Regions from separate parts of the Homo sapiens genome. Here regions 1 and 2 are each linked to region 3. The links come from fine-mapping of genetic effects on gene expression. A gene starts in region 3. Each other region holds a variant in brackets. All regions are shown on one strand. Distances are between the middles of the regions.

Region 1 (8,177 bases), 270 kb before region 3:
TTCAAAAAGTGCTTTCATGAGCATTCTCTCATTTGATCTAGGGTGTTTACAAATTTATATTTTGAAGGAGTTTTTCCACATATTGAAATTGGGCCTATAGATTTATAGTTTTCAGGGCCCGCCCCTTCTCTCCTCCTCCACTCAGCTTCCTTTCGTTCAGTCTTCAGGCACTTCATGGTTCTTTATTCCTTTTCACAACCAAAAAAAAAAAAGAAAAAAAATAGTGCATGCTGAACAACACACCAGGCTCCTTGCTAAGTCTCTCCAAAAGCAGGGAAGTCATCAGTGTGCGGGATTTGAGCACATGTGGTTTATTTAATCATTCGTTCATCTTTCTCTGATTGCAGTGGAGTTTCACACGTTCCACCATATGCTGTCCCTGAAATGCTCTGCACACACTAGTGAGAGCCCATGAGGGGGCCTAGCCTTTGCCTTCCCTCCTTGTCTGCCAGGATTGAAGGAGGAAATCAGGTTGGGAAAGTCCTGTGGGACCAAATTGTGGAGGAGCTTGACTGCTAAGCCAAGGACTCCAGACTCTATGCTGTCAGCAAGAGAAACATAGGTATTTGATCAGAGCTGCCCATGAGGAAGGTTAATCCAGCAGCGACTCCCTTAATCCAGCAGTGACTCCCTCCAGCTTCAGCCCTTCCCCAGTCTCAGGGTTGGAGGGAGTGTCTTTTGCTGGAGTCCCCCAAAGGGGTCCCAAGTCACCAGGAGACACAGGACTAGCGATCACCCAGGAGGCCTGCAGCCTGGGTCTCCACTGTGATTGAGGCTTCCTAACTCTGGCTTCTTGGGCTTCCAGAAGCACTAATGAGCAGGGCTGAGCAGTAATTAAGACTGTGCTCTGTTCCACATCATCACGCAGCACAGCTGCAACTGCTGGGAGGAAGGGGAAGGAGAGAAGACCGGGAAGATGCCTTTAGCCCTGTCTTCCCACTCTGAACCTACTTGCTCTCAGGCTCTCCAGTGCAGCAAGGAGGGGTTGGTAAAGCCATGGGATGAGGGAACAGCTACAGGAGATGGCTGCCCAGGGCTGGGGAAATAGCGTTCAGACACCAGCCAGCTGTTGCTGCTCCATTCTGCATCCCAGGTGGGGTGCCAATGGGCCAAGCCATGATTTTCTCAGAGGTGAGGACCCCTGTCTTGCAACCAGCCTGGCACTACAGGCCCTGCAGCAGGAGGGGGCTGTGATCTGGCCAGGGGGAGCTGGGTGGAGGACGAGTATGACACATGAAATTATGAGTCTCGGACCTTCTCTGGCTCACATCCCAGAACAGGGGCCTCTCTTGGCAAGGGCCCACTGCAAGAACAAGTACTCAATGAGCAACACAGAGCCAAGCTCTGGAGGTTCACAGGTCACACTACAAGCCAGTTCATTCCACGGAACACACTCTCCAGTGGAGAAGTGGAGGTCAAAACAGAGTCATGACTGCTACGATGGTGATGAGAAAAAGTTCCATGGGGCCACAGAGTCACCTAGGGTCGACTGAGGACAGCTTCACTTATATGGTGGCACTTGAACTGAACCTTGAAGTAGAAGAGGGATTCACCAGAAAATATGGTTTTGGCAAAGGGAATAGAGAACAAAGGCAGGTGGCATGAGATAGTCAGCTGCCAGGAGACGTGGTGGGCCTGGCCCAGAGCATGAGTGGAGCGAGAAGGGAAGGATTCTGGAGAAAGGAACCAAGAGAATCTAGAATTCTAAAGGACCACCAGGGGCTCCAGGCCTGGCAGGAGCAACTAACAGGATGACCCACCTTCCCCAACTTACACCACCTCAGGCGCTGGGCAGATGCTCTGTGACTTTATCAGTATCCCTGGGGAGTGGTGCCAGCCCCAGGTGCTGAGCTGGAGGGGGGATCACAGAGGAATCAAGGGACTCAAGGAGGGAAGGCAGCTGGAGGGAAGGGGCTTGGGCAGAACGAAAGAGGAAGGGGCTTGGCCCTGGGCTCTCATCCACTCCTGAAGCCCATGCAGGGAACAGTGAATGATGCAGTGCCTGTGTCCCAAGGTCCCAGCCTCGTGTGGGACCATCGGGGCACTAGCAGCCTTCCTGTCTCCTACCCCTTGCTCTGGGGGCCACGGGTACATGAAGGTTTCCAGAACCCAGGGAAGAGGCCAGAGGTTCAGTAATAGCTCTACAGGAGCATAACTAGAGAGTGATGACCAACTCCCAAAATACAGAATGTTTATTTTGAGCTCCACAATACATGTCAGTCAGAGAAAGGTTCGAGTCTCAAAAATGCTGGCTCTTGGCCAGACGCGTTGGCTCATGCCTGTAATCCCAGCACTTTGGGAGGCTGAGGTGGGCGGATCACTTGAGGTCAGGAGTTCAAGACCAACCTGGCCAACATGGTGAAACCCCGTCTCTACTAAAAATAGAAAAATTAGCCAGGCATGGCAGTGGGCACCTGTAATCTCAGCTACTGGGGAGGCTGAGGCAGGAGAATTGCTTGAACCTGGGAGGTGGAGGTTGCAGTGAGCCGAGATGGTGCCACTGCATTCCAGCCTGGGTGATAGAGTAAGACTCCGCCTCAGAAAAAAAAGCTGGAGCTTCAGTAATGCTGACCACTTTTAAATATATGTAATCAGCACTCATTTCAAATAGTCTTTTAGCAGCATGCTAACTTATGACTACAAGGTCTGCGGTCCCCTCTCCTGCCAAGTGTCCCCTTCCCCTGTACAAGTGGCCCAGAGGCAGTTCTCCAAGGGGATTTGGGGACTGTACTCCTGTATAAAAGAAAGCCTGTGGTGCTGCTGTGTTAAGTTACCCACCTATTGGCTGGTGAGTGCCCCCTTCATGTCTTTCCTGAAGGTAGATTTTCAGTAAATAAGAAGACCACATTTTTTATTCTGAGGCTATGGTCTTGTTTTCCATAGCAGTGTGTCCCAGAAAGCTCGAGATCTCTTGCATGGCCATGATTTGAAAGTCTGGAAATGGGATCCACTGGTAAGCTATGTTCTCCATGGAGCTCACCTGAGGCTGCCCTGCACCCCTCGCCTCTCCCTCAAGGGGTCACAGGGCACCTGTGGGCACCTCTTTCTGCTGCCTGTATGTCCGCCCCAATAGGAGAAAGAGGGGGCATAGAGGGAAATGAGTCTCCTTCACTGGTTCGAATTAGCGGGAAGCCTGTGAGTCCAAGCCCCCCTCAAATTCAGGCAACGACCAATCCGGCTTCCCTTTCTGTGCCCTTGTCAGAGAAGAGGCCGCTGGGCCCAGGCCTGTCCCTTTCCTCCAACCTGGCAGGCATGGGAAGCAACTGTGGAGGAATTTTAGAGCTGGGAGAAGCAGAGGGAGGATTGGAAAGCCTTTTATTTTCTTTGAACTTTTCCATTTAAAATATTTCTATTTTTAAAAGAATAATTTGGTTCTTTTTAATTTAGCATGTTTTCCTTAGAGCAATAAAGGCTTTTGCAATATGGAAAAGGTGACATTTGATCTGAAGGAGTCTGGGGGAGCTCTGAGTATAGGGAACTGACCTTTAGTACCCACCCATGAGCGCTGCCAACTGGGGGCCTGAGGTCTAGTGCTTGCCACAGGTGGGCTCACCGCAGGAGCCTGCTGGTGACCAGCCTGTCCCTCTTCCCATGGGTTCTCTAGCTGGCTCTGACTAAAGCCCTGTCTCTCTCTTGGCTCTCTCGCCAGCTGTCCCACTTCTCAGCTTCTCCCTTTCTTCATTCAGCCCAGCCCAGAAGCCCTGAGGGCTGGGCCAGAGGGAAGTAGTTGTTGCTGTTTCTCCCCAGCTCCCGCTCAAACCTGACACCACAGAAAGGTCAATCCCACATGGTTCTGCACATCCCTGCCTGGCCCGCCCTGGCTGTTACCATGACGACTGCTGGGCTGGAAATGTCCTTCGCCACCTCTGCTCAGCACACTGGTGGCTGTCCCACGCTCCATCCTCAGAAAAGCTGCTGCTGCCAGGGGTTCTGGAGTTACAGGGCCTATGGGAATAAGACAGACCGACAGAGACGAGGAAGATAGACAGATACAGTCAGAGGCACACACTAACAGAGTCAAAGAGAGACAGGCATACATAGGAGCACCGAGAGTGCGAAGGTGCGAGGAAGTGAGGTGTCGACACAGCCTCAGCCGTGCAGGACTGCAGGAAAAATAAAGCAAAGTGGAGCCTGAGACAGAGACAAGAGACAAACGGAGGCACAGGGGACACGGGGGCCCGTGGCACCACAGCAAGAGGCCAGGCAGAGGAAGAGAGGAAAAGCAGAGACCAAGGCAGTCAGCTCTCCGCTGCCCCTGCTCCCATCCCAGGAAATTTCCTTGCCCAATAGGTCTCTCTTGGCCTCCTGCTCTCTGAGATGTCAGGCAGGGTCTGTCTGAGTTGATTTGTTGGCCAGGCTGTTCCTCTGGCTGGACAACATTTGCCACCTTAAGAGGGGCCCTCCCCTAATAAGAGTGATCAAACTGTTGCCACACACACACACACACACACACACACACACACACACACACCCCGCTCCTTGCCCTTGATTCCATGTCACCCCAAACTCATCATAAATACCTACTCAGCCTCACTTCGCCCAGGTGGTGAAATGGGCATTGGAACAGTGTGAAGGGTTGATTTTCAAATTGCGGCAAAATCTAGGGAATAAGTGTGAACCTCAGAGATGATGATGCCCCTGGAGGTAATGAATGGGCAAGAGGAGGGAAAAGACAGACTGAACAGTGAGTACCAGACAAGAGTGTGGGGCCCAGAGGGTGGGAGAAGGGATCAGGGAAGAGAGAGACAGGCTCAGAGCTCTGACTAGG[G/A]CAATCCAGAGGAGTGGTAACAGGAGGGCTGGGCCAACTGGATTGGCCTTTAGTGCCTGGCAGGGAACACTGCCTCTAACATCAGTGCCATGATTTCCCATCTTTGAAGTGTCTCCAAGGCTTTGAGGGAGGCTTCTCAGGGTCTTTGAATTCTTTGTCGTTCTTCTTAGCATTTTTTTCTTTTTCTTTTTCTTTTTTTTTTTTTTTGAGGTGGCGTCTCGCTCTGTTGTGCAGGCTGGAGAGCAATGGCGTGATATCGGCTCACTGCAACCTCCGCCTCCTGGGTTCAAGCTATTCTCCTTCTTCAGCCTCCCGAGTAGCTGGGATTACAGGCGCCTGCCACCATGCCTGGGTAATTTTTTGTATTTTTAGTAGAAACAGGGTTTCACCATGCTGGCCAGGCTGGTCTCCAACTCCTGGCCTCAGGTGATCTGCCTGCCTTGGCCTCCCAAAGTGCTGGGATTACAGGTGTGAGCCACTGCACCCAGCCCAGCATTTTCTTCTTAGAAAATGATTAGGCTGTCAATACAGGAAACTCTGGGGCCGGGCCAGTCTCTCATCTATCCTAACCTTGACCACAGTGTGAAAGGACAGTAGAGTCAGTGCCCCTAATGTCACCATGTTCCAAGCTCACATATGAGTGTTGAACAGGTGCCAGCCTGGAGCGTCCATTGCCCTGGTGCCCTCAGTCCAGAGAGCCCAGTGAGAAGCTGGGCCAAGAAGGAAGACTTGAACCCAAGAGAGCAGTGTGTGGACATTCAGACTAGGCTGGGCTGAACTCACCCCCGGGGAGAACCACTTCCCACACTGGGCCACAGAGACCAAAATGTCAAAACCAAAGGTCCCGCACAGCCCTGGAAGGCGGATCCTGGCCTGGGCGGGAAAGAGACTGTGCCAGATGCTCACGCGCTGCCTCACATCCCTCCAGCCCATTTCTGTGACCAGCCGCAGCTGCAGCGGATGCTTCTGGTACATGCTCAGTTTCCCTCCTCTCTCCTCTGCGTGAGGCTTTTCTTAGCCCCTGCAGGGCTGCCTGAAAGTGGCAGGGGCTTAATACCTCCAAAGAGCAAACCTCAACCAATGAAGGATGGGCACTGGTGGAACTGCAGCCCAGATGTGCCCCGTCAGTCAGTGGCAAAATTCTGAGCTGTAATATTTTTTTTTTTTTTTTTGAGACGGAGTCTCGCTCTGTCACCCAGGCTGGAGTGCAGTGGCTCCATCTCGGCTCACTGCAACCTCCGCCTCCCGGGTTCAAGCAATTCTCCTGTCTCATCCTCCCAAGTAGCTGGGACTATGGGCACACACCACCAACCCGGCTAATTTTTGTATTTTTAGTAGAGACATGGTTTTGCCATGTTGGCCAGGCTGGTCTCGAACTCCTGACCTCAGGTGATCCACCCGCCTCAGCCTCCCACAGTGTTGGGATTACAGGCCACCGCGCTTAGCCTAAGCCATAATCTTTATGTCTCCTCAGAGTGATCCCAGGGCGACAGCCCTAACTACCCACAGTGGACCTACTCAACACAGGGAGCTGTCTCATTCTCCTCCCTCCCTCACTCCTGCTCACCCCCTAAAATCAGCCACCTACATACAGGTCCTTGTCTCAAGGTACACGTTCAGAGAACATAAAACAGCACAAGAGCGACCTTTTTGTGATCTTCCAACCCAAGAGTCTGTCCCTCAGGGTTGAGCTAAGATAAGAACTGTTGGAGGGCTCTGCCTCTGACCACTGACTGGTAGGTGATCAGGTGTTTGTCATTATTATCTAGGGAGGAGAAAGAAGAACTCACCAGCTCTCCCTCCCAAATGCTGGGGAGACCAGGGCTGACTTAACAGCAGCAAGCCCCCATAGGTCTCCAGTAGCCAACCACAGATTTTCATAATTGGAAAGGACCTTAGGGGTGACCTGATCCAACTTTCTACACAATGCAGGAATCCCCTTTACAACCTTTCTGACATCTGCTGACACACCTCCAGTGACAGGGAATTACTATCTTCTACAAGGCCACCCTATTGTTGAACAGCTATTAGAAAGTTCTTAACACTGAATGGTAATTGGTCTTCCTGAAACTCCCTGCCATTGGTCCTAGTTTGTCCTTTGTACTTCAGTGTGTCTCAGCTTTCTACCCAATACTCCTTCAAATATTTTAAAGCCAACCGGGTCTCTCTTAAATCTCTTTTCTATGGAAAACAATCTTATTGTCTTGTCCTGTCTTCAAATAACTCGATCTGAGCCTGCTCACCCTGGACCCCTCCTCTAGGGAGCATTGCAGTTTGTCGATGTTCCTCTGTAGGAAAAGACCCTGTTGCAAGAATGGCACCACCTTGAAGCAAAACTGCCATAATGACTGATGTTTGACTCCTGCATACCAAGGCATTCCTGTGGCAAGGTCAAGAAACAATGCCTGGGCCGGGCGCAGTGGCTCATGCCTGTAATCCCAGCACTTTGGGAGGCTGAGGCGGGAGGATCACGAGGTCAGGAGATTGAGACCATCCTGGCTAATACGGTGAAACCCCGTCTCTACTAAAAAATACAAAAAATTAGCCGGGCATGGTGGCAGGCACCTGTAGTCCCAGCTACTCAGGAGGTTGAGGCAGGAGAATGGTGTGAACCCGGGAGCAGAGGTTGCCACTGCACTCCAGCCTGGGGGACAGAGCGAGACTTTGTCTCAAAAGAAAAAAAAAAAAAAGATGCCTGGCCAGGTGGGGTGGCTCATGCCTATAATCCCAACACTTTGGAAGGCCAAGGTAGGAGGATTGTTTGAGCCCAGGAGTATGAGACCAGCCTGGGCAACATACTGAGACTTTTCTTAAAAAAAAAAAAAAATTAGCCAGGGGTATAGTCACAGCAAACTCAGGAGGCTGAGGAGGGAGGACAGCTTGAGCCCGGGAGGTTGAGGCTGCAATAAGCTGTGATAATGCCACTACACTCTAGCCTGGGTGACAGAGCCAGACTCTGTCTAAAAAAAAAAACAAAATGGAAAAGAAAGAGAAAAAAGAAAAGAAAGAATGCCTGTAGCATAAATAACCCCTCATAAAGATGCTTATCTAACCTCCCCAGTGGTCATGAAACTTGCAATAAAGTCTGAGGTGTGACCAGCTGCACATGTTTTCCCCTAAAAACTTGTTATACAAAGGATACTTTCTGGAGGGCGGGCATGGAAACCACCATCTCGTGACCAACCAAGGTATGGCTTCTGTGCATAAGTTTCTATTAAGCATTTATCTCTGAGAAACTAGATTCGTCAGCCTCTCTCTCTGTTTTGTTTTTGTTGTTGTTGTTGTTGTTTTTTTGAGACAGAGTCCCACTCTGTCGCCCAGGCTGGAATGCAGTGGCATGATCTTGGCTCACTGCAACCTCTGCCTCCCAGGTTCAAGAGATTCTTCTGCCTCAGCCTCCTAAGTAGCT
Region 2 (8,177 bases), 69 kb before region 3:
AAGCGAGACTCCAGCAAAAAAAAAAAAAATCTGGGTTGGTATAATAAAGACACAGTGACATTCTAGATTAAGGGGTTGGTTCTTATATGAAAGCATCTCAATCTTTTTTTTGAGACAGAGGTTTGCTCTTGTTGCCCAGGCTAGAGCGCAAGGGTGTGATCTCAGCTCACTGCAACCCCTGCCTCCCAGGCTCAAGTGATTCTCTTGCTGTAGCCTCTCTAGTAGCTGAGATTACAGGCGTGCGCCACCATACCGAGCTAATTTTTTCTGTCTGTATTTTTAGTAGAGATGGGGGTTTCACCATGTTGGCCAGGCTGGTCTCAAACCCTTGGCCTCAAGTGATCCACCCGCCTTGGCCTCCCAGAGTGCTAGGATTACAAGCAACAAGCATGAGCTACCACGCTCGGCCTATGCATCTCAGTCTTAAATTTTCTTCTAGGTGGATTTAGGGGTTTGTGCTCGTGGCCCTAAAAATGAACATGAGAAAGGCAGGGAGTACCTGCTTAGTTGCAATAGGCCTTGTTTAGGCTAAAAATAAGCTCGATACCTGTATTTTATATACTGTAAAGAGCATTAACCATAACCTGCCTGCAACAGCCTCTGTAGGTAGAAACAATTATGGAGGTGTCAAGTAAGAATAAAGAGCTGATAACATCAAATTTGGTTTATTTCAAGTTTGTAACAAAATATATTCTAGGCAACTTTTCAGACATTGTTTTATAGCATCATAAACCCCATACCACTGCTGTCATTCCAAAAGCTGCCAGGACACTGGAAGTTATCAAGTGGTCCAGCCCAGGAATACAGGTAGAATTCACATGATAGGTGATAAGAAAGCAATGTCTGTGGGCCACTCTGATCCCTCTTTTTACCTTGGTAGGTAAGGTATGATCTTAAGACTATATGTACTGAGTCCTATTAGTCAGTGAAAAAGATTAAAGTGACAAGTTATGTGCTTTGTTCCTATAGCTTTGAAGTTCATCCACCTCACCAGCAATTGGAAGGTCTCAGGTCTTGCAGGCTCTACCCATGTGTAATCCTGGGGCAGGTGTGAATCTTGATTTTTTTAAGAGATTACTCAAGGGAGAGAACAACAGAAACGGAAGCCATGAGTACTGCCCCAATTCTAGATTAGGTTAGAGGTTAGAATAAATTAACTAATGGGGAGTGGTAGTGGGTAGCAGTCAGACCCAGGAGACAGATTTGTGTGGTTTCCTGATCTCAGCAAGGTCTAAGGAAAAAAGCCTCCCCGCCCCCCCACCTTAAATAGTGGCATCAAGTCATGAAGGCCAGTGAAACGTGGTTAGTCTCGTAAAATGACTTCCAGTTCTTCCAGGTCCTTCTGGATAGCCAAATCCTAGGGAGACAAAGAACAAATCTAGGGCTCAAAATTTAAACCAGCATTTTCCCAAACCAGTGGAACCTAAGAAGAGGGGCCCTTTGCTTCCTTCCTGAGCTCTGCTACAGTCTTTTTCCTACTTCCCCAGGATAGCCTGGAGCCTATTAAATCTGTCTCTTCCCCTAGAGGTAGACTCTTTTTTACTAGGGAAATAAGACCTCTAGGAAAGATTATTTTCTAAAAATGTCACATGATGATTCAGTGATGACAGGCAGTTTTGTTTGGTTTTTTTTTGAGATGGAGTTTTGCTCTTGTTGCCGAGGCTGGAGTGCAATGGCACGATCTGAGCTCACTGCAACCTCCACCTCCCGGATTCAAGCGATTCTCCAGCCTCAGCTTCCCGAGTAGCTGGAATTATAGGCGTGCGCCACTAGGCCCAACTAATTTTGTAATTTTAGTAGAGATGGGGTTTCTCCATGTTGGTCAGGCTGTCTCGAACTCCCGACTTCAGGTGATCTGCCCAACAGGCAGTATTAAAAAGCCTTACCTCCTTCGTGACATCTGGCAGCTCCAGGGCCAACTTCATCCACCATCTAGCTTCAGAGTTTTTCCCTAGTTCTCTGTAGCACTGAAAAGAGACAACAGTGAAACCTGATACTGTGTACTTTCAGGAGTTCCCAGATCTATGTTGAAGTAGACAAATGAGTTTACCTTGGAAATATATACCCTTCCTGCTTTGGAAAATCCTGGCTGTAGTTCTTCAGCCTGGGAAAAGGGACAAAGATATTTCAGTAAGAGGTTCCTATATTCTAATCAGGCTGAAGTTTATTAAACTAGATTTCTAGTCCCCAACCATGTGGCTGATTCAGTGGGTCTGAAGAAACCTATATTTTTGATAAGCTGTGCAAGTGATTCTGGTTTTCCCATAGAACAGGCAAACACAAAATTGCCCCCGACTAGGAAAACCCCTCCCATTAAGGGTCTCAATAATGTCCTTAGGAAAAAACAAGGTTACCCTGGTGTTTTTGCCTGCCACCTGCCCCTCTCATACCTTTAGGAAGCTCTGGAGGGCATCTTCCACAGTGGCACTGAGAGGGCTTTCAAGCAAGGCTGTAGCAGTTTTTTTTTCTAGCCAGCTCAGGTGAGAGACCTGCCACAAAAAGATCAAGGTGTGTATAAGAGGTTTTAAAAGGTTTTTTTTCTTTAAATCTTTGGGGATATATTGAAAATAGGGTCAAACGGGGCTGGGTCGAACCACCAATAATACGAGCATTCAGAAGAAAGGGCACCTGAGCCAGAGAAGGCTGAGGATCTTGTTCTTCCTGGCAAGGAAATCGGTGTCAGAAGGCATTTAGGACCATTATGTCAAGCACTGAAACGCAGCTTACCTGATAGCACCACCTGCCAAGAAGAAAGTGAGCCATGGGGTTTTCTGGCTGGAGAGCAATGGCTTTGTCCACATGCTCCTAAGGGGAAAATGTAAATATAAACTAACATCAGACACCAGAGTTGCTAAAAGAGAGGCAAGGGCCGGATGCAGTGGCTCATGCCTGTAATCCCTGCACTTTGGGAAGCTGAGGCAGGTGGATCACCTGAGGTCAGGAGTTCGAAACCAGTCCTGGCCAACATGGTGAAACCCCATCTGTGCTAAAGATACAAAAATTAGCCGGGCATGGTGGTACATGCCTGTAATCCCAGCTACTTGGGAGGCTGAGGCAGGAGAATCGCTTGAACCCAGGAGGTTGCAGTGAGCCAAGATCACACCACTGCACTCCAGCTTGGGCGATAGAGTGAGACTCTGTCTCAAAAAAAAAGAAGAAAGGCAAGTCACTGAGGCTGTAGAAAAGTTTTTGGCAGGGAGCTGGAAAGGAGTGGGGAATCTGGGATAGGCCAGCACAAGGAAGGAGGAAAAGCCTGTCCTCACCTTGAAGCTAAAGCCACTCTGGATGCGCCTCTGGATGCTCTCATGCTCAGCCAGCTGACCACAAAGCACCGCATACCTAGGGGGGAAGCAGCAAGCTCAGGGACAAGGGCTGAGTACCATCACTGCAAGGAATGGATGCCCCAACCACAGCCTAGTTGCATTGTCCCCTATCCCTGTACCCTCAACTAGAGCTGAAAATACCTAATTTTCATCTGTACGTAATCCCCATTCTTTACGGACCTCTGGCCCCAATTAGTATTCTTTAGTAGATAATGGTAGGCTTACAAGTCTCCAAAGTATTCTAGGTATAAAAAAAGCTGGGTTCACCACAGTAAATCTCTCTTACACAGTAAATCTCTCCTACACTCATAAGGAGTACAGCCACAGGCATTAATAAAAACTTGAAAAGCATGAAAACAATCAGCATAAAAGTATGAGACCTGACTATACTACTTATCTTCTGGGCAGACAAAAAAGTGGGTCTCATTAGCCTTTAAGCATACAGGTGTATCACTGGGACTTGGGAAGCAATTTCTTAGGATAGTCACATTGGGAGGGGATATTCTAGGAATTTCTGATGTTACTTGGAAACCAACAGAACCAGAGGAAGAAAGACCTCCTATATATGCCTTCTCCCCCACATCCCCCCTCCCAAAGGGAACCAGCCAGCCAGCTTCCCATCATCTGTCTTCAGAAACAAAGTCTTACTTCCCCATCCCCCCAGCATTGTTCCTAGCAGCACAGTTGACATTCGATGAGTAACCAGCCCAAGTTGCTTTTTCATGTATATGCTAAGTA[TC/T]CGGGGGGTATCAGATACTTCTAGAGGCTCATTTCCATGTTTAATCCAAACAGCTGTTCCTCAGGAATAGCTGTTCATCCTTGGAAGCCCAGGGAAGCAGTGACACCCAAGAAACAGTTACCTGGCCTCTGAGAAGAACCCTTGCAGAGACAAAAGTTTCAGCAACAGATGGAGAAACACAGCCTCTCACTTAGCTCACAGTCTGAGGGTGGAGACATGGAAAGCAAGGGTGGCGGTGGGAAAGGAAAGGAACATTTTCACTAAAACTCAGGTGCTGGAACCAGACCCCAGGATATGAGTTAGCCGTGGCCCAGGTAAGCTGACAGAACTTTGCCTCACATGAGACCACAAAAAGGGCTGATGTTTTTGCAGCCTAATAAATTGACCACTAAACTTCTGGGGGGTGAGCTCACATCTACTTTTCCTCACATGAACCAAGCAAAGAAGCCAAAGTACCAGCAGCCAGGGATCACACGCAGGGGAAAGAAGAGCTTATGCAGGATAGGGGAGCTGCAGATTGTCCCAGCCTCCTGAGAGCCAAGAACTCCAGTTTTGTAGCTAGGATGACTCTTAACAAAGCTACTCATTTCTCCAAGCCCCATCAGAAAAAAAGCTTGTATTCCCCGCTTGCCTCATCCCTAAGCCACCTCCCCTACCAGAAACTTCCCTTGTCTCTGGCTAGGGGTAGACTGAGGCATGTGGAGATACAAGCCAGAACTCCCTCTCCTGGATCCTTTGGAAAATGCCTCTGTGGCCCAGGCAGAGAAAAGAAAGGGCTGTCCTCTGCTTTGGCCCTTGCTGGCTCTTCCCAGAACACTGCAGGGTGTTATTACCACAGGTGACAGTCAGCACTCTCATCCCCCTTCTCCAGAGCAGCCTCTGCTTCTTCTTTTCCTGTAGGACGAAGGTAGATCCAGAGTTGACATAGCTCTTATGCACACTTTCATAGGAAGGCTTGTGGGAAGAATGACTGCTTTAGCTCTCACCAATCCCTACCCAGCTTGGACTTGTTTGGAAATAGTTGTGAACTTGAGCAGAATGAAAGGCCGCAAAGAAGCCAGTCACAGTGGCTCACGCCTCTGTGCTGTGTAATCCCAGCACTTTGGGAGGCTGAGGCGGGTAGAGCGCCTGAGGTCAGGAGTCGGAGACCAGCCTGGCCAACACAGTGAAACCCCATCTCTACCAAAAATACAAAAATTAGCTGGGCGTGGTGGCAGGCGCCTGTAGTCCCAGCTACTCAAAAGGCTGAGGCAGGAGAATCGCTTGAACCCAGGAGGCAGAGGTTGCAGTGAGCCGAGATTGCACCACTGCACTCCAGACTAGGTGACAGAGCAAGACTGTCTCAGAAAAGGCTGCAAACGGCTTCTAAGGGAAGACTTCAGGGATGACTTCTGCTTCACCTTGGCTTCCCCATCTGTCATTAGAAACCCCAGTTACCTTCTTTTTATAATGCCCACCTGATGTGCTTGAAGCAGATTTTAGCATTTAAAATATAAAAGGATCCAGCCAGGCACGATGGCTTATGCCTGTAATCCTAGCACTTTGGAAGGCCGAGGTGGGTGGATCACTTGAGGCCAAGTGTTTGAGACAAGCCTGAGCAACATGGTGAAACCCTGCCTCTACTAAAAATATAAAATTAGCCAGGCATGTTGGCACATCCTGTAGTCCCAGCTCCCCAGGAGGCTGAGGCAGGAGAATCACTTGAACCTGGGAGGCAGAAGTTGCAACGAGCCAAGATTGCACCACTGCACTCCAGCCTGGGCGACGAACTCCACCTCAAAAAAAACAACAACAACGGATCCAACACAATCAGAAATTGTCCCCAACAGACCTTACTCTGGAGGGGCAGTGTCCATGAATCTCAAGTTGTATAAAATTTAAGTAAGTGGGGAGAGAGATCACAGCTTTGAAAAAATTCCCTAAAGGGGATGGGTACATTGGCTCACACCTGTAATCCTAGAACTTTGAGAGGCCAAGGAGAGGATAGCTTGGGACCAAGAGTTCAAGACCAATCTGGGCAACATAGGCAGACCCCATCTCTTTAAAAAAAAAAATTCTCAAAAGGATCCACGATCCAACAATATTAATTAGCTCTAGGCCAAAACTCTTTCACAAGAGCCACATGGACTGAGGTCTGACCAGAGATGACGTTCACTTAGTCTTACCCGAGTTTTCTAGGTTAGTGTTCTAACAAAGAAATGAAAGCCCATAAACATGAAAGTTCTGACAAGCGTCACTTAAGAGTATCGAGGCTGGAGCTTACGGACCACCAGATAAGGACCATCATGCCTATGCACTGGAGAAGACACTGCAACATAGGATTTTTTTTTTTTTTTTTTTTTTTTTTGAGACAAGAGTCTCACTCTGTCGTCCAGGCTGGAGTGCAATAGCACGATCTAGGCTCACCGCAACCTCCGCCTCCAGGTTCAAGTGATTCTCCTGCGTCAGCCTCCCGAGTAGCTGGGATTACAGGTGTGTGCCACCACACCTGGCTAATTTTTGTATTTTTAGTAGAGACAGTTTTGCCTTGTTGGCCAGGCTGGTCTCAAACTCCTGACCTCAGGTGATGCGCCCACCTCAGCCTCCCAAAGTGCTGTGATTACAGGTGCGAACCACCGTGCCCAGCCAAGAATTCTTTGAAGAAAACAAGTTTGGAAGGGAACATGGAGAAAATGGAACAAATGTAATGCATTGAGGTGGTAAACTGGCTAATCTGAAATGTTTTCCTTTTTTTATTTGAGACAGGGTCTCTCTCTGTTGCCCAGGCTGGAGTGCAGTGGTGCAATCTCAGTTCACTACAACCTCTGCCTCCTGGGCTGAAACAATCCTCCTGCTGGCATGTTCCACCACCATGCCTGGCTAATTTTTTAAGTTTTTTTTTTTTTTTTTGTAGAGACAAGGTCTCACTATATTGCCCAGGCTAGTCTCTAACTCCTGGGCTCAAGCAATCCTCCTGCCTTGGCCTCCCAAAGTGCTAGGATTATAGGCATGAGCCACCACACCTGGCCACAAATGCATTCTTAAGACAACTGATGCTGTGAAAGACTCTACCTCTCTTCCCAAAGAGAGGGACCACATGGCCCCACCAATGAGGGACGCTGCCTCTTTGGGGATTTCTCTCTGCCCTCTTCAAAGTACTGTCTCACTAGGAAAATAATAGCAAAGAATGAGACAACTAGTTCCTGCCAAGCTAGACAGACAGTGTTGTAGACAAGACATTGCCTGAGACCCCACAGAATGACTGCCTCCTGGTGGTCCAGCTCCTAGAGATACAATGAAATAAACTTTATACCCAGTAAGGATAATTCTTAAAGGCTGTGATCTCAGAGCAGAACCTTCAAAGACATTCCATAGTCATCTGACCTCCAGCAGGTAAAGCTTTGTCCATGGGTGCTAAGCTCAGGAGGCCAGACCAACCAAGTGCTGCCCTGCTAACCACTGCCTCCACTTCTGTCTTTGGGGTTCATGCTGGCTACTAGCACTAATAAGAGATGACCAATGATCAAGAGGGAAAGGAAAGGTTGTTGACATGAAGAGTCCAAAAATCAGCCCAAAAGCTGAGAATCCTCATCTGAAATTTAGGAGGGAAAACAAACTTTTGGAGAGAAAAAGTAATCATAAATAAGCATCTTTTGTTAAAACTTCCAGGAATTTTTCTGAGGGTCTACAGAGACATCCTACTCAATTGGTCTGTTCTTTCTCCATTGACAGAATTCTACAAATGTTTAGAATGTTAACTTTGAGGTACTGTTTGAGTATACATTATCAAGGATTCAATAATATTTGTAAGGCTGTACTTACAATAGAAAGGTAGACAAATCCATTTTAGACAGTTAACTGGCCAGGCACAGTGGTTTATGCCTGTTATCCCAGCACTTTGGGAGGCCTAGGTGGGTGAATCAGTTGAGGCCAGGAGTTCAAGACCAGCCTAGCCAACATGGCGAAACCCCATCTCTGCTAAAAATACAAGACTTAGTCGGGTATGATGGCATGTGCTTGTAATCCCAGCTACTGGGGAGGCTGAGGCAGGAGAATTGCTTGAGCCCAGGAGGTGGAGGTTGCAGTCAGCCGAGATCAGGCCACTGAACTCCAGCCTGGGCAACAGAGAAAGACTG
Region 3 (8,140 bases):
CTGGCCTCAAGCGTTCCTTCCACCTTGGCCTCCCAAAGTGCTGGGATTGCAGGTGTGAGCCATCACACTCAGTCAAATACTTTCTTTAAAATCCAATTATGGGCAGGGCACAGTGGCTCATGCCTGCAATCCCAGCACTCTGGGAGACCAGGCAGGAGGATAGCTTGAACCCAGGAGTTCGACACCAGCCTGGGCAATATAGCTGGACCCCGTCTCTGGAAAAAAAAAAAAAGCAAAAACAAACACAAAACAAATTAGCCAGGCATGATGATGCACACCTGCAGTCCCAACTACATGAGAGGCTGAGGTGGGATCACTTGAGCCCAGGAAGTCGAGGCTGCAGTGAGCTGTGATTGTGCCACTGCATTCCAGCCTGAATGACAGTGAGATCTTTTCTCAAAAAATAGACATAAAAATAAAAAAAAAATAAAATCTGATTATGTAACTTCTCTAATTAATAGAGAATGACTTCCAACTGACTTCCTCAGGAGTTCTCAACTTCAGGGTTAGAAACTCTAGATTTCAGCCGGGCGCGGTGGCTCACGCCTGTAATCCCAGCACTTTGGGAGGCCAAGGCCGGCAGATCACTTGAGGTCAGGAGTTCAAGACCAGCCTGACCAACATGGTGAAACCCTGTCTCTGATAAAAACACAAAAATTAGCTGGGTGTGGTGGCACATGCCTGTAATCCCAGCTGCTCAGGAGGCTGAGGCAGGAGAATTCCCTGAACCTGGGGGGCAGAGGTTGCAGTGAGCCAAGGTTGCACCACTGCACTCCAGCCTAGGCAAGAGAGTGAGACTCCGTCTCAAAAAAAAACCCTCCAGATTTCCCACTTGGATCTTTTGTGAAATGTCTCAAATAGTTTCTCACTATTAATAAAGTACTAATTAAATAATTTGCAGGCAGGGCATAGTGGCTCACACCTGTAATCCCAGCACTTTGGGAGGCCGAGGTGGGAAGATCACGAGGTCAGGAATCCAAGACTGGCCTGGCCAACACGGTGAGACCCCGTCTCTACTAAAAATACAAAAATTAGCTGGGCGTGGTGGCGGGTGCCTGTAATCCCAGCTACTTGGGAGGCTGAGGCAGGAGAATCACTTGAAACAGGAAGGCGGAGGTTGCAGTGAGCCGAGATCATGCCACTGCACTCCAGCCTGGGCCAAAGAGTGATACTCTGTCTCAAAAAAAAAAAAAAAAAAAAAATTAGCCGGGCGTGGTGGTACATGCCTGTAGTCCCAGCTACTCCGGAGGCTGAGGCAGGAGAATCGCTTGAACCTGGGAGGCAGAAGTTGCAGTAAGCTGAGATTGCGCCACTGCACTCCAGCCTGGGCGACAGAGCGAGACTCCGTCTCAAAAAATAATAATAGGCCGGGCACGGTGGCTCACGCTTGTAATCCCAGCACTTTGGGAGGCTGAGGTGGGCAGATCACGAGGTCAGGAGATCGAGACCACGGTGAAACCCCGTCTCTACTAAAAATAAAAATTATTAGCCGGGCATGGTGGCAGGCGCCTGTAGTCCCAGCTACTTGGAGAGGCTCAGGCAGGAGAATGGCGTGAACCCGAGAGGCGGAGGTTGCAGTAAGCCGAGATCGCGCCACTGCACTCCAGCCTGGGCCACAGAGCGAGACTCCGTCTCAAAAACAATAATAAAAAATAATAATAATAAAGAATTTAAAAAATAATAATTTGTAAACATAGAGCACTTAGAATACTATCCAGAAAAAAAAAATACTGTCTAGGACATAGTAAGCATTATACAGATGTTAGGAATTATTAATCCTAAAATATTGAAACACGAGAGAGGTGGAGCAGATGCTTTTGATGCTTCATAGACATCCCATGGCCATTTCTGATTTCAGCTGCGGCTGCAGGGGACAGATTTGTGCAGGTTGACAGCATTTCTCAAGGGCCCTCTGGGTCTCTCTGATTTTCTGCCCCAGAGCTTCCTCTTCTCAAAAGCTCACTCACCCCATGAGCAGGGCAGCCCAGAAGTACTGGGACATTAGTGGGCACTATTTTTTTTTCCTTTTTTTTTTTTTTTTTTGAGACAGTCTCGCTCTGTCGCCCAGACTGGAGTGCAGTGGTGCAATCTCAGCTCACTGCAACCTCCGCCTCCCGGGTTCCAGTGATTCTCCTGCCTCAGCCTCCCAAGTAGCTGGGACTACAGGTGTGTGCCACCACGCCCGGCTAATTTTTGTATTTTTAGTAGAGAAGGGGTTTCAGCATATTGGTCAGGCTGGTCTCGAACTTCTGACCACATGATCCGCCCGCCTCGGCCTCCCAAAGTGCTGAGATTACAGGCGTGAGCCACCGCGCCCGGCCTAGTAGACACTAATTTTCTTTCTTTCTTTCTTTTTTTGAGAAAGAGTCTTGCTCTGTCGCCCAGGATGGAGTGCAGTGGCGCGATCTCGGCTCAGTTGGGCACTAATTTTCATTTGATGAACGCCTCTCCTTCGTATATTGTTAAAACTACCACCATGATCCAGGGGGAGATAAAAGAAATCCTAAATCCAGCTTGATCAGTGTTTCACTCCCTGGCATCTTTATCACCACCTAAGGTAGCATGGACCTCTATACCATCTGCCTTAACCTTCTGATCCTCCTGCTTTTAGCCCACTAACTAGCACATGCTGAGAAGGGCATCAGCTACTTGAAAAGAGTCAATGGGCTTGAGTGGAAAAGAAAATAGAGACAGCAGGGTCATCGGTCACATTGGCAAGGGGGCATGAAAAGGGAGTGGAGAGGCTTTGAGATCTTACTTTTCTTTCGTTCTAGGCTCTTAGTGGAAGAATTAAATCAGCCTGCAGAAGAGACTGAAATGAGGCACCTCTTGTCACAGTCAAGGCAGAAGCGGAAACGGAGGCCGAGACTGCGCAGGCGCAGAGGAGGCTAGCGTTCCTTGCTGCCTCGCCCCGCGGCCTCTAGGAGACAGGGGCCACGGGGAGAGCACAGCCACCCGGCGCGAAGAGCCCTCTGTACCCCGCTTCCTCTTGAGGCCCTCGGACCGTCCAGGAAATGTCTGGGAGCCCGCCTGCGGAGGGCATAGCGCCGACCCTCGCTCCCCGCCCAGGACCCGAATGAACCTGGAGAGCGGATGCCAGCAGTGGCCGAGGCGCTAGGACAGGAAGGACCGCCAGACCTCTCAAGATCAGCCTTCCTCGCCACCGTTCTCACCTCTTTGTCCGCTGCCTTCTCCTCAATGCCTAGCAGCGCGTACAGGTCCATCTGTAAGAGCTCCTTGGTCACTGCCATGGTTCCGGCCTGACGGATTCGTACTACAACTCCCAAGAGTCTAAGCGCGCGTGAGGACTGCAGGCTCCGAGCGGCGCCTAGCCCTCTGGGAATTGTGTTCTGGGTCAGGCTTGACTGACTCTGAGGGAGGCCGGCAGTCGTGAATGAACTACGACTCCCAGCAGCCCCCGTTGCCGCCGCTGCCGTACGCTGGCTGCAGGAGAGCGTCCGGATTCCCTGCTCTAGGTCGCGGCGGGACAGTGCCAGTGGGCGTGTGGGGCGGGGCAGGGCAGGGAAGGGAAGGGCGGAGCTGGGGTGAGGGTCCAAGGGGCCCAGGACTTGGCCGGCGTGATCTCAGCTCTGCAGACCCTGCGGTGCTGGGAGCCACCATGGAGAGTAGGTGCTACGGCTGCGCTGTCAAGTTCACCCTCTTCAAGAAGGAGGCGAGTCTTCCCTCCCCGAGGGCTGCAGGGCCAGGGAGGAGAGGAGGGAAAAGCGCGGGACTTAACGTCCAAAGACTTGGTCTTACGGCTCCTTTCCAGCTGTGTGGTTTTGATGAAGTCATTGATCCTCAGTTTCCATTTCTGTAAAATGGGGCTAACATTCTCTCGCTTTCAGGGTTTATGTGAGGGTCCACTGAAGTGCTTTAGGTGAGAGTTCCCTATAAACTGTAAAGCGCGCTGCCGTCGTTTTTGCAAAGCTACTCTTTTCTGTCGGCCCAGTGTAGCATCTGGCGGTTTTCTTCTCTCCACCCTGCTCCTCCGAAGCGCGGTGTCCATCACACCAAGCCCGTTACTCCCTCTGCTCTGAAATCTTCCCCATCCCGCAGCCTGCCCTTCTCCAGGTCGCTGGAGTTAGATTACCACACTTCCTCCTGCTTCCGGGGCACCATGGTGAAGGCTGACTGTCCTGTCCCTATCACAGACCTGCCAGATTCCTCTGGTAAACTGCAGGTTCCCTCTGCCTCAGTTGTGGCCAGGGATTCTGACCAGGAGATGATGGGAACTAGATGGAGTAAATTAGTGTCACGCAGGAAGGCAGGACCGTGCAGCATTCACCAACCTGGATTTTGGAGTCAGCGTTCAAATCTGAGCTCTGCTGTCTTATTGAGGCGGTGACCTTGGTTTGGATAAGTTATGTAACCTCTCTGGCCCTCTCAAAATAAGGATAATCACGGTTGGCATCAAGATTAAGTAAAATAATGTGTGTAAATTGTAAGGAATAAATCACATGATGAATGTTAAGTACTGGGTTTAGTGCCTGGCACATAGTAAGTGCTTAATAAATGGAGGCTATTGTTAGCCCATCCTGAGCCAAGCCTCCCTCCATCTCTGCAAGAGCAGAGGAGGCATCGGCTCTGCCCTGTCTCTCTGATTCTCCTTTGTGGAAGAGTCAGTGGCCTGAAATACTGGGCTTTATCTATCTGTCTTCTACATCCCTGGGTCAGGGAATTGAAGACAGGGTAGAAAGCATGGGAATTTTGTATAAACCTTCATTTGGCTTGAATAAGGTACTGGAAACCGAGGAATTGCTTTACTCACCATCCCTAGGCCTTAGGGGCCCCACTCCTCTTCTTCCTCCCAGCAGCTGGTCATAACTTCAGTGACTTCTCTCTGTGTGTGCTTGGAGAGTCCCTGGGAGCAGCCTGCAGGGGCGGGTGAGAGGGGGATCTCCCGCTTCATGTTTCTTGTAGTACGGCTGTAAGAATTGTGGCAGGGCCTTCTGTTCAGGCTGCCTAAGCTTCAGTGCAGCAGTGCCTCGGACTGGGAACACCCAACAGAAAGTCTGCAAGCAATGCCATGAGGTCCTGACCAGGTAAGAGGCAGGCATGGGTGAAAGTTCAGCCAAGTATGGCAGTGGGCATCTGGCCAGCCCTCACAGCTTTGTACTCTGTCGCGAGAGTCAGCCGAGGAAGTGTTTGGAGTGGGGGGCACTGCCTGGTGGGATGGCAGGATTTATAACACTAGATTTCTTCTCTGTAGAGGGTCTTCTGCCAATGCCTCCAAGTGGTCACCACCTCAGAACTATAAGAAGTAAGTGCTGAAGAGAAAAAGACAAAGAGCATTGGGGAAAGGATAAGGGAGCCATAGGGAAAGACCCTGCCCCCATCTTCTAGATAAAATGAGCACAGAATCAGGAGAATTCTCTCCTCTCTGGCTCCTGACTGCCCTCTTGGGCTGGTAAAGCAGCTCTTCAGCCCTCTCTCCAGGACAGGCACTTGGTAGAGCTTGTCCTTTCAGCTGGACCGTCTGGCTGGTCAGCCAGGTTGGGCTGCAGGGTGACATGAGTGAGGGGCACAGCAGATTGCCCATTGGAGGCCTCCCTAAGTGCCCAGAAATGATTTGATTTGAATGGGAAACAGTGAGTGGGTGCCTTCACTCTTCCCCTCTGCCTTCTTCAAGAGCCTCTATCTCATATCCTGCCAGGCGTGTGGCAGCCTTGGAAGCCAAGCAAAAGCCCAGCACTTCCCAGAGCCAGGGACTGACACGACAAGACCAGATGATTGCTGAGCGCCTAGCACGACTCCGCCAGGAGAACAAGCCCAGTGAGCAGGGGCAGATGGGGTTGCCTAGAGGACACAGTCCAGGGCTTCTGGGACTGAGATGCCTCTGGCCCTTACAAGGCTCCCCCCATGCCAATTGCAGAGTTAGTCCCCTCACAGGCAGAGATAGAGGCACGGCTGGCTGCCCTAAAGGATGAACGTCAGGGTTCCATCCCTTCCACCCAGGAAATGGAGGCACGACTTGCAGCGTTGCAGGGCAGAGTTCTACCTTCTCAAACCCCCCAGCCGGTGAGTGTTATGGCTTAGGAGAGAAGCGGGGGTGCTAGCGGGAGGACCCAGCAGAAGCCCAGATACAGGTATTGGGGTGATACAAAAGTAATTGTGGTTTTTGTCATTACTTTTAATTGCAAAAACCTCAGTTACTTTTGCACCAACCTTTGTACTTTATGTACTTTGCAGGAGTTGGCAAAGCCTCCCACCCCTACCTCCTGATCCTCAGGCCTGCTACCAGACCCGGGGACCAGGGACAAACAGCACGATAGGGTAGGGCAGGAAAAAGTGGCCCCTCAGTCCTGTTGGGGACGGCCAGACCTACTTGATTATGTGGGCCCTGGATCCCTCTCCTTTCCCTGGGCTTTGAGAACTACTTAGCATCCATCCCTGACCTAGACTGCTTCTGGGCTACCCCTGCTCTCCACTGAGGTTTCCTCGTCTGTGCAGGCACATCACACACCGGACACCAGGACCCAAGCCCAGCAGACACAGGATCTGCTAACGCAGCTGGCAGCTGAGGTGGCTATCGATGAAAGCTGGAAAGGAGGAGGCCCAGGTAACCCCTCCACTTGGCTCCCTAGGAATCTGCCCTACCTCTTTCCCCAGACTGGAGAGGCTCTGCTGTCCACCCTCTGGGAGATGAATATAAATCGGAGAGTGATCAACGTTATAAGAGTTACCATTCATTGAGTGCTTACTCCAAAGGGAGCCAGTGTAAGCCTAGTGTTTAAGTGCACGGGCTTTAGAATCAGACAGTGATTCCCATTTCTACCACGTATTAGCTGTGTGATGCTGGACAAGTTACTTGACCTAAGTCTCACTTTCCTCATGTGTAAAATGAAGGTATGTATGGAAAAACCTACCTCACAGGGAAATCAGGAGGAGTAAACGAGATAATCCAATAAGTGCTTGGGAACATACCTGACTCATAGTGAGTACTCAGTGAATATTCTCTGCAATCATGATGTTGATAAGGAGGAAGAAGCTATTTAGTAAAACCAGCCACATCTCAATGCTCAGTAGCCATATGGGCTTCATGGCTACCATCTTGGACAGCACAGATATAGAACATGATATGGAATGTTTCCATCATCATAGAACATTCTGTTGGACAGTGCTGTTTGAAGGCTTCAGAGCAGTGGTTTTCAACAAAGGATGATTTTGCCCCCAGGCTACTTGTGGCAACATTTAGAGACTTTTTGGTTGTCACAACCCAGAGGATATTACTGGCACCTACAGGATAGAAGCCAGGGATGCTACTAAATCTACTATGTCACAGGACAGCACATCATGATGAAGAATTACCCGGTCCAAAGTGTCAAGAGAACTAAGATTGAGAAGTCCTGCTTTAGAGGCACAATCTCATTGAATATCCTCAATAATCTTATGAGGCCAGGTGTGGCTCACGCCTGTAATCCTAAGCACTTAAGGAGGCAGAGGCAGGAGGGAGGATAGCTTGAGCTGGGGAATTTAAGACCTGCCTGGGCAACATAGCAAGACTCTGTTTAAAAAAAAAATCTTATAAGGTACATACTATTCTTTTTTATAAATGAGGAAACAGGCCTGGTGAGCTTGAGGAACTTGACCAAGGTCACACAGCTATTAAGCTGCAGAGATGAGACTTAAACCTAAAGCTGTGATTTTAAACCTCTTGCTCTGAAACACTAAACTGAAGGTGACTGTGTCAGAGCCACACCTAATCTGGTAAAATTCTTCCTGCCCAGTGATATACAAGCTCTTAGCTTCCTTCATTGCCCTCTCTGTGCTAATCCCAGGAGATGCTAATTCCTGCCCTGAAAGGCAAAGAGATCGGCTGAACCTGGGCCTTATCATGTCTTGATCCTTTAGGGCAGTGATTCTCAAACCATAGGACGCCCACCCTTAGGGCAGAATGTTAAAATATCAGGTAGATGGGGATGGATGTGGTTGGAAAAGACATGGGTAAAATTATTAGTTTTTTACATTTGGAAAAATGGAGGAATACTAATTTTATTTGTGATAGAAACCATAGGCGCTAGTGCTGAGCAAAAAGCTGATGATCTGTGATTAGAAAGGGTTGAGAAAAGCTGGGCATGATGGCTCACGCCTGTAATCCCAGCACTTTGGGAGGCTGAGGCGGGTGGATCACGAGGTC

The links.
Region 1: its variant is fine-mapped to the expression of DNAJC17 in unexposed skin (GTEx, PIP 0.93).
Region 2: its variant is fine-mapped to the expression of DNAJC17 in whole blood (TOPMed, PIP above 0.99). The same link has a PIP of 0.9 or more in cerebellum and tibial artery.

Annotation. Positions count from the first base shown.
Region 1 is chr15:40,535,411-40,543,587 of GRCh38, forward strand. It overlaps a transcript of CCDC32 not described here. Among named protein-coding and RNA genes, the nearest start is that of CCDC32, 26 kb to the right of the region's middle. The variant G/A (reference allele first, on the strand shown) is at 4,769.
Region 2 is chr15:40,735,238-40,743,414 of GRCh38, forward strand. It overlaps RMDN3 (regulator of microtubule dynamics 3), which reads right to left. Exons shown (of 13, transcript NM_018145.3): 7 at 4,896-4,956; 8 at 3,264-3,339; 9 at 2,728-2,805; 10 at 2,391-2,489; 11 at 2,051-2,104; 12 at 1,887-1,967; 13 at 650-1,357. The coding sequence ends at 1,304. Among named protein-coding and RNA genes, the nearest start is that of RMDN3, 16 kb to the right of the region's middle. RefSeq lists an enhancer at 5,292-6,164. The variant TC/T (reference allele first, on the strand shown) is at 4,062.
Region 3 is chr15:40,804,196-40,812,335 of GRCh38, forward strand. DNAJC17 (DnaJ heat shock protein family (Hsp40) member C17) reads right to left here and starts at 3,278. Exons shown (of 11, transcript NM_018163.3): 1 at 3,174-3,278. The coding sequence starts at 3,251. ZFYVE19 (zinc finger FYVE-type containing 19) reads left to right here and starts at 2,894. Exons shown (of 11, transcript NM_001077268.2): 1 at 2,894-3,673; 2 at 4,924-5,045; 3 at 5,213-5,263; 4 at 5,657-5,775; 5 at 5,876-6,021; 6 at 6,454-6,562. The coding sequence starts at 3,395. RefSeq lists enhancers at 2,557-2,646, 3,107-3,156, 3,197-3,246, 3,877-3,926.